Linked DNA regions of Homo sapiens. The protein of the gene in region 1 purifies or fractionates together with the protein of each later gene. This does not show direct contact. Each region holds a gene or a part of one and is shown on either strand. Other genes may lie near its edges. The genes, in order: ADRB3 and SH3GL3.

What was found.
Region 2: the proteins of ADRB3 (region 1) and SH3GL3 purify together in Homo sapiens (pull-down; one study listed by IntAct). This does not show direct contact.

The regions. Positions count from the first base shown.
Region 1 is NC_000008.11:37,963,787-37,968,221, forward strand, and holds the start of ADRB3 (beta-3 adrenergic receptor), read right to left. Parts: upstream 2,814-4,435; 5' UTR 2,684-2,813; coding exon 1,479-2,683; intron 454-1,478; coding exon 432-453; 3' UTR 1-431. UniProt on the Homo sapiens protein: Beta-adrenergic receptors mediate the catecholamine-induced activation of adenylate cyclase through the action of G proteins. Beta-3 is involved in the regulation of lipolysis and thermogenesis.
Region 2 is NC_000015.10:83,614,545-83,618,352, reverse strand, and holds part of SH3GL3 (endophilin-A3), read right to left. Parts: intron 272-3,808; coding exon 66-271; 3' UTR 1-65. UniProt on the Homo sapiens protein: Implicated in endocytosis. May recruit other proteins to membranes with high curvature.

The DNA.
Region 1 (4,435 bases):
TTTCTACCCTGCTGCTCTCAGCCTGGGCCACAGAGCCTGGAGAACACTAAGGTCTCATCAGGGTTTGGGTGGCAGAAGGAATGGAACCAGGGGAGCTCTCTTTGCCCTAAGCACTCACTGACTGCACAGGCAAGCCGGGTGATGGGTGCCCCTACCAAAGCCAGCCTGCTGCTCCACGGCACCTGGACACTACCACTGAGGGAGGAGTGAAGTTCAAGGCTGGGGTTTAGAAAACATCTCTCAGACAGAGAGCAAGAGGATGGTGAAAACCCACTTGGTAAGGATCCCTCCTTGGGTCACATGGCCCAGTCGTCAGGTTCTGGAGGGTAGAGTGTCACAGCCGGGGAATCCCATGGGACTCATTCTGAACAGAGGCCAGAGGTTTTCCACAGGTTCTGATCAACAGAGTTGTTGCTTCTTGTCCTTCAGGCCTAAGAAACTCCCCAAGAAGCCCTGGGAAAAAAAGTGGAGATAATAGACCCTGGGGTGAAAGGAGCAACAGGTGCACTGAGGGGAATGACAGAGATCAGAGACCCTGGAACGCATATTTAGTTACACAAAAACGCCAGGGCACCACCCAGCCACACACGCCCCACCCCATCCCTACTCCAACCCAGCCCAGGGAGCGGGAGGGCACACATCTGCACTCACAGGCTCCTCACTCACAACTGTACTTCATACCGGAAGTGGATTCTCACCTCCACAGCTGTCAAACCTTTGAGAAAACCCAGAACTGAGGCCGAGGGCTTGGGGGGCGGGTGGGGGGGCACTAGCCCTGCCTTCAAGTCCGAGCCAGGTCTAGTGATGGCAAGAAATCGGGGGAGGGGGGCAAAGAACTGAGCTGGAAAACCAAAACTAGAGCCGACCCGGCGCCCTGGCTCCGGCCTGTAATCCTAATGCTTTGGAAGGCTGAGGCAGAAGGATCACTTGAGGCCAGAAGTTCAAGACAAGCCTGGGCAACATAGCAAGACCCCATCTCTACAAGAAATTTTAAAAATAGCTGGGATTGGTGGGGCTCGCCTGTAGTCCCAGATACTCAGGAGGCTGAGGTGGGAGGATCGCTTGAGCCCAGGAGCCAGGAGTTCAAGACTGCAGTGAGCTGAGATCGCGCCACTGCATTCCCGCGTGGGCGACAGAGACGAAACCCTGTCTCTATTTAAAAAAAAAAAAAATCCCTAAAGCCGACCAGGCGAGGCGAGAGTCCTCGGGACACCGCAGCGCTTTCCGGTGGCGCACCTTGGGTCCTTGGGTGAGGAACGACGGCCCGCTCGCCCTCCTTTGCTTCTACCCTAGTGACTGGATCCGGAAAGAAAAGGACCCTGGGTCCCATTTTGGTTCGCTACTCCTCGTTCCCTTTTCTCTCCAAGCAAAGCCATCCCACCTTCTCTTAATAAACTCCACACTCAAAAAGTTGACCCACGGACACATCGCATGCTTCCCGACCCTGAGCCGCCGGTCCCTCTGCCCCGGTTACCTACCCGTCGAGCCGTTGGCAAAGCCTGGGCTGCGCTGGGCTGCTCCGGGCCGCAGGAACGCCCGAGGGGAAGAGGGCCGGGCGGGCGGCGGCGCAGGGCTCCGGAGGCAGGCGACGGCCGCAGCGGCACAGAAGACGGCGGAAGGCGCTGCGAAAGTCCGGGCTGCGGCAGTAGATGAGCGGGTTGAAGGCAGAATTGGCATAACCTAGCCAGTTCAGGGCAAGGAAAGCCGGGCCCGGGACTAGAGAGGGGCCCCCCAGGGCGCGCAGCACGTTGGCCAGAAAGAAGGGCAACCAGCAGAGAGTGAAGGTGCCCATGATGAGACCCAAGGTGCACAGGGCCCGGTGTTCCCGGAGAGGCAGGAGGCGCGCGGGCCGCCGGCCGCAGGCGGGCACCCCTTCGGGCGGAGCGCACGTCCCCACCGGGGCCGGGGCCAGAGAGCGCGACGGCGCCGGCGGAGACTCCTCGGGCGGAAAGCGGCCCAGCTCCCCGCGCAGCAAGCGCAGCTGGCGCGTAGCCACCACGAAAACCCGCGCGTAGACGAAGAGCATCACGAGAAGAGGAAGGTAGAAGGAGACGGAGGAGGACAGCAGCACGTAGGGCATGTTGGAGGCGAAGGCACAGCAGCGCGGGTTGGAGTGGCAGCGCTGCGCCTCGGCGTCGGCCCCTACGCGCCACCACTGGCTCATGATGGGCGCAAACGACACCGCGGCCGACACGACCCACACCAGGACCACAGCTGTCCGGGCGCAGCGCTTGGTGACCAGTGCGCCGTAACGCAGCGGGTTGGTCACAGCCAGGTAGCGGTCCACGGCCAGGGCGCACAGGGTTTCGATGCTGGCGGTCACACACAGCACGTCCACCGAGGTCCACAGCTCGCAGCCAGTGGCGCCCAACGGCCAGTGGCCAGTCAGCGCCAAGGTGGCCGCCGGCGGCACCACCAGGAGTCCCATCACCAGGTCGGCTGCGGCCAGCGAAGTCACGAACACGTTGGTCATGGTCTGGAGTCTCGGAGTCCAGGCGATGGCCACGATGACCAGCAGGTTGCCTCCCACGGTGGCCAGCACCGCCAGCGCCAGCAGGGCCCCGGCTAGGGCCGCCTCCCACGGAACCCCTGGCAGCCCACTGGTGTTGGCGGTATTGGGCGCCAGGGTGGGGAGGTCCGGCCATGGGGCAAGAGAGCTGTTCTCGTGAGGCCACGGAGCCATCCCCGGGTCGCGCGTGGGGCGGTAGGGAAAGAAGGAAGGAGGGGGTCTCCCAAATCACCTGGCTCAGGGGAGGGGACAGCAAGGCATGAGAGCGACTTCCCCAGCCTGGGCCATCTTCTCTAGCTGTCCCAGCCAGAGCGCTCAGCCTCCCCCCACCCCAACTCCCTCGGTGCCACCGCTCTTGGGGGAGGAGTAGCGACGCTTAAAGGGGCAGCTGCCTATAGTCTGGAGGGGCCTCTGGAGCCGAATTGGAGAGTGGGGAGGATGGCCAATGGGATGCTCCACGTTTCCTTTAGCTAAATCTGGAGGAAGGGACACCGTGGTTCCTCTGCCACCATCTGTCCACCCCTGCCGTGGCCAGGCTCCTGGACTCAGCATAGCACTCCCTGGGCACTGGCTTCCTGGAGCCCTGCACCTCCTTTCCCAGAAGTTCCCACAGCAAGGCAGGGGAAGGAGAGAGGAGAGCGCTCCCATCCCCACCCTTTATGTATCAGAGGCAAAGGTAACCCGCTGGAGTCAAGCAAAGGATTCACAGGAGCCCCGCATCCACTTGGGTGGCCTCCCCTAAGGTATTTTAAATTAAGTAATAGGGCTCAGCCAGTATCTCCTCTCCCAAGACCTCAGCTTGGTGAGATCTGTCCCCTTTCCCTTCTGTTTCAGTTACCTTCTCTTTCCTTCTAGCTTTTTGTTTTTTTTAATATTTTCAGGTACTGAGGAAATTTACCATATTTCAAGTCTCTCTCTCTCTCTATTTTTCCCAGGCTGGCTTTGAACTCCCGGGCTCAAGCCACCCTCCTGTCCCAGCCTCCTGAGTAGTTGGAATTGCAGGCGTGAACCACTAGGAGGCTCAGGAGTCTTTTTCTTTTTCTTTTCTTTTTTTTTTTTTTTTTGAGACGGCGTCTCGCTCTGTCACCCAGGCTGGAGGCTGGAGTGCAATGATGTGATGTCTGCTCACTGCAATCTCCACCTCCCGGGTTCAAGCGCTTCTCCTGCCTCAGCCTCCCAAGTAGCTGGGACTGCAGGCACCCGCCAGCATGCCCAACTAATTTTTATATTTTTAGTAGAGACGGGGTTTCACCATGTTGGCCAGGATGGTCTCGATCTCCTGACCTCGTGATCCGCCCGCCTCGGCCTCCCAAAGTGCTGGGATTACAGGCGTGAGCCATCGCGCCCGGCCAGGAGTCTTTTTCATTGCTAGCTCTGGATTTGCATTTGGATTTGGCACTATGTAGTCTGGGATGCTGAAGAATTTCAATTTCTCCATCTTCCCCACTCTGCACTGCCCCTTCCATGCACCTTTCCACCTAGAGATTTTCTAGATAGCCCCTTCTCTTAAAATCTTTCTGCTATAAAGACATATTAAAAATGGATGAATCAACAGGTGGGCGCGGTGGCTCACGCCTGTAATCCCAGCACTTTGGGAGGTCGAGGTGGGCAGATCACCTGAGGTCAGGAGTTCAAGACCAGCCTGAACAACAAGGAGAAACCCTGTCTCTACTAAAAATACAAAAAAAAAAAAAAAAAATTAGCCAGGTGTGGTGGCGCATGCCTGTAATCCCAGCTACTCAAGAGGCTGAGGCAGGAGAATCTCTTGAACCTGGGAGGCAGAGGTTGCAGTGAGCCGAGATCACACCATGGCACTCCAGCCTTGGCAACAAGAGCGAAACTCCATATCAGAAAAAAAAAAAAAAAAAAAAAAAAGAAAGGATGAATCAAGAGGCTGAGAGGAGAGGATCGCTTGAGCCCAGGAGT
Region 2 (3,808 bases), on another chromosome or scaffold:
CTGAGAGCACACTGGTGTGAATTCATTTCAGTTACGAAAGTATGTCCAGAGTTTGTGTTACACATTTACTGAGGTAAAGGCACGATCACTTCCACGTAATTAATGGGGAAGAATCCCGATTCTCCGTGTATCATTCCTTCATACCAGTTTTCATCTATTTGATTGGTTAATGTAATGATGTCCCCTTCTTTAAATCCTAATTCTCCTTGGTTTTCTGGCTCAAAGTCATAGAGACCACGACAGCAGGGCTGGTCCATGGGAATGTTAGAACCTGTCCACATGATATGGAGACAAAAAGTACAGATGAACATGATGGATTATCCATGGGAAATTGGAAATGTGGAAAAGCTCAGAGAGACCCTTAACAGCAGGCCTTGCTTCCTTCCCACAAGGCCAGCTCCACCCAGCTCACGGTGCCGTTTGTGGTCTCTGGCTGCCTCAGCTCTCCCAGCTGCCTGCGCCAACCCCATGAGCCCAGAGTCTATCTTTTCAATACTCCCAGGCAGAGAAGTCGTGCCCAGCCCATCTCCCAAAAGCAGCCAGTCAGCTCCACCTGGAGCCCTAAGGGAGCGACAGAGGAATCACAGGCCCACCTCCTTCTCTCTGGGAGCTTACAGTTTCTTTGTGGGGATTAGAAAATACACGAGAAACTTTTATTTATTTATTTATCTATTTTTGAGACAGAGTCTTGCTCTGTTGCCCAGGCTGGAGTGCAATGGTGCGATCCTGGCTTACTGTAACCTCTGCCTCCCAGGTTCAAGAAATTTTCGTGCCTCAGCCTCCCAAGCAGCTGGGACTACAGGCATGCGCCACCACGCCCAGCTAATTTTGTATTTTTAGTACAGGTGGGGTTTCACCATATTGGCCAGTCTGGTCTCGAACTCCTGGCCTTAAGTGATCTGCTCACCTCAACCTCCCAAAGTGTGGGGATTACAGGCGTGATCCACTGTGCATGGCCAAAAATCTTTTAAAGAACAAATATGAAGTGTGTATCACTCATGGTTCAGGAGCTCTGGGGAGAGGGTAGTAGGGAGGACCTTGGTGGTCAGCAAGATCTTCCTAGTTAATGGGCAGGACAAGGGCCGGGAGGAGAGAAACCAGGACAAGAAAGGCAAGAATATTTACAGACCAGAATTTACAGACAAGAATATTTACTGACATCTAGTCCCAGAATAACATCAAAAACATTTTTTTCAAAACAAAATCATGCTAATTGTAAACAAAAAATACATGTATGCAAAGTGGAGAAAGAAAAGTCAGAGCTGTAAACCATTACCCCAGAGATAACTGGGCTAGCTTTCAGATTCCAGATGTCTTCATGATTATATTTGTGCATATATTTACATATAGTTGTTTTCATAAAAGATTCTTCTTGTACAAGCTAGGGTGAATATCTTTCAATTTTAGTTACTGACTAGCTGTCAGCTCTCACAATGTAACATTTCTTCAACTAATCTCCTATTGTTGGACATTTACGGTTCTTCTTTCTTTTCCTTCCTTCTCTTCTTTTCATCTCTTCTTTTCCTTCCTTCCTTCATTCTTTTCTTCCTTCTCCCTCCCTGTTTTTCTCGATTTCTCTTCCTTTTTCTTCATTTCTTTCTGTTGTCTCTTTTATTCCCCCTTGGCTTTTATAGACAATTCTTTGGGAAAAAGAGCTTATACATAAATATCTACAAATGTGCACTATTAATTTCTGAGGATAAATTCCAAGAAAAGGATTTCATGGTCATAGAACATGAATTCTTTCTAAAATATCTGACATTTAGTGTCAATTTATTTTTCTATTAGGTTGGTGCAAAAGCAATCACAGTGGCCAGGCGCAGTGGCTCACGCTTGTAATCCCAGCACTTTGGGAGGCTGAGGCGGGCGGATCACGAGTTCAGGAGATCGAGAACACAGTGAAACCCTGTCTCTACTAAAAATACAAAAAAATTAGCCGGGCGTGGTGGCGGGCACCTGTAGTCCCAGCTACTTGGAGAGGCTGAGGCAGGAGAATGGCGTGAACCCGGAAGGCGGAGGTTGCAGTGAGCCAAGATCGCGCCACCGCACTCCAGCCTGGGGGACAGAGCAAGACTCCATCTCAAAAAAAAAAAAAAAAAAAGCAATCACAATTTTTACCATTACTTTTAGTGGCAAAACCTGCAATTACTTTTGCACCAACCTAATATCACTATTTTTCTTAAGATGTTTAGAAGTCCCTTTATACTACACATATTTACCCTTTATCTGTCATTTCTGGTACAAACATTATTCCCAACTTATCATCTGTTCTTTTTTTTTCTCATTTTGTTTTTGAAGTTTGTGCTGGCAGTGGGGCAGGGAAAGGGGTTTCTATTTTGTTTTGGCATGAATGCACAAATTGAAGAGTATAAGCAGTCAAACTAATCAAACTTTCTATTCATGGTTTATTCTCCACAGTCCTATATAAAGACTCAACTAAATTTTATTCTAGTATTTTTATTTAATTTTTTTCACATCAGAACTTTTATAATCTATTTGGATTTTGGCAAAATGAGGTAAATATCTATTATATTTAATAATGCTTATGCAGTCATAACAACATACTTAAATAATCCATATTTTCTCCAGTGATTTCAAGTATTGCCTTTATCTTTATCATATATTTAATCATCATGGGACTTAGATCTATTTTTGGATTTTTTCTATTTTGTCCCACTGACTCATTTTGGTAACAGTACCATATCATTTTAAATACTGTGGCTTTATAATAAATGTTAACAGGCCGGGTGTGGTGGCTCACACCTGTAATCCCAGCACTCTGGGAGGCCAAGGCGGGCAGTTCACTTGAGGCCAGGAGTTTGAGACCACCCTGGCCAACATGGTGAAACCCCATCTCTAAAAATACAAAAGTTAGCCAGGCATGGTAGCGCATGTCTGTAATCCCAGCTACTCAAGAGGCTGAGGCAGGAGGATCACTTGAACCTGGGAGGCGGAGGTTGCAGTGAGCTGAGATCACACCACTACACTCCAGCCTGGGTGACAGAGTGAGACTCCATCTCAAAAATAAATAAATAAATAAAATGTTAATAACTAGTAAAACTAGTTCATAGTCATTACCCTTCTATTTCAATATTTCCTTGCTATTCTCATGAATTCATTTAACTAGGTATATTTCAGTATTAATATGACACATTTCTCTCACAAAAATCTCACTTCAATTTTGACTAGTTCATACTTTTTTTCTTTGAGTATTAATAAGATTAATCTTAGGAGTTTTTTTTTTTCTTAATAAGTGACTTTTGCCATCCTATTTGATGATTTCCATTTTTATTTCCTTTTTCTGTTATAAGACTTTTTCCTCCCTCTAGACTTCAAGTGAGAATTGAACAAGTTCTGCTAGAGATTATGTTCTTTCTCCACTAAGTCTTCTAGGTCCAAGTAAAGAGAATAGGTACGTTGGGGTATTTCTGTGGCTGGCCAAATGAGATGCCCCTTTGTCCTGGGGAGGGGTAGAGAGGTGACAGCATTATGGGAGGAGGAAGACAAGAGTTGGGGCAATGGAGATTCCTGTTGTGAGAAGGATTATATTATAGTTGTTTAGACAGCTTGAAATTCATGGAGTAGCGCCTATATCTCTAAGGAACAGGGCACTCTAAGGAGCCTTCATCAGCGGAGCTCCCCAGGTTGTACCAAGGTGGCTTCCTGTTGCCTTCCTATGGCAGTGGTTCTCAACTTGGTGGCACACTAAACAGCCCACTGCCCAGGGTGAACCCGGCATCAGTATTTTTTGTTTCTCAGGTCCTTCCTATGTCCAGGGTAGGTTGACAACCACCAGTGAAATGATCCT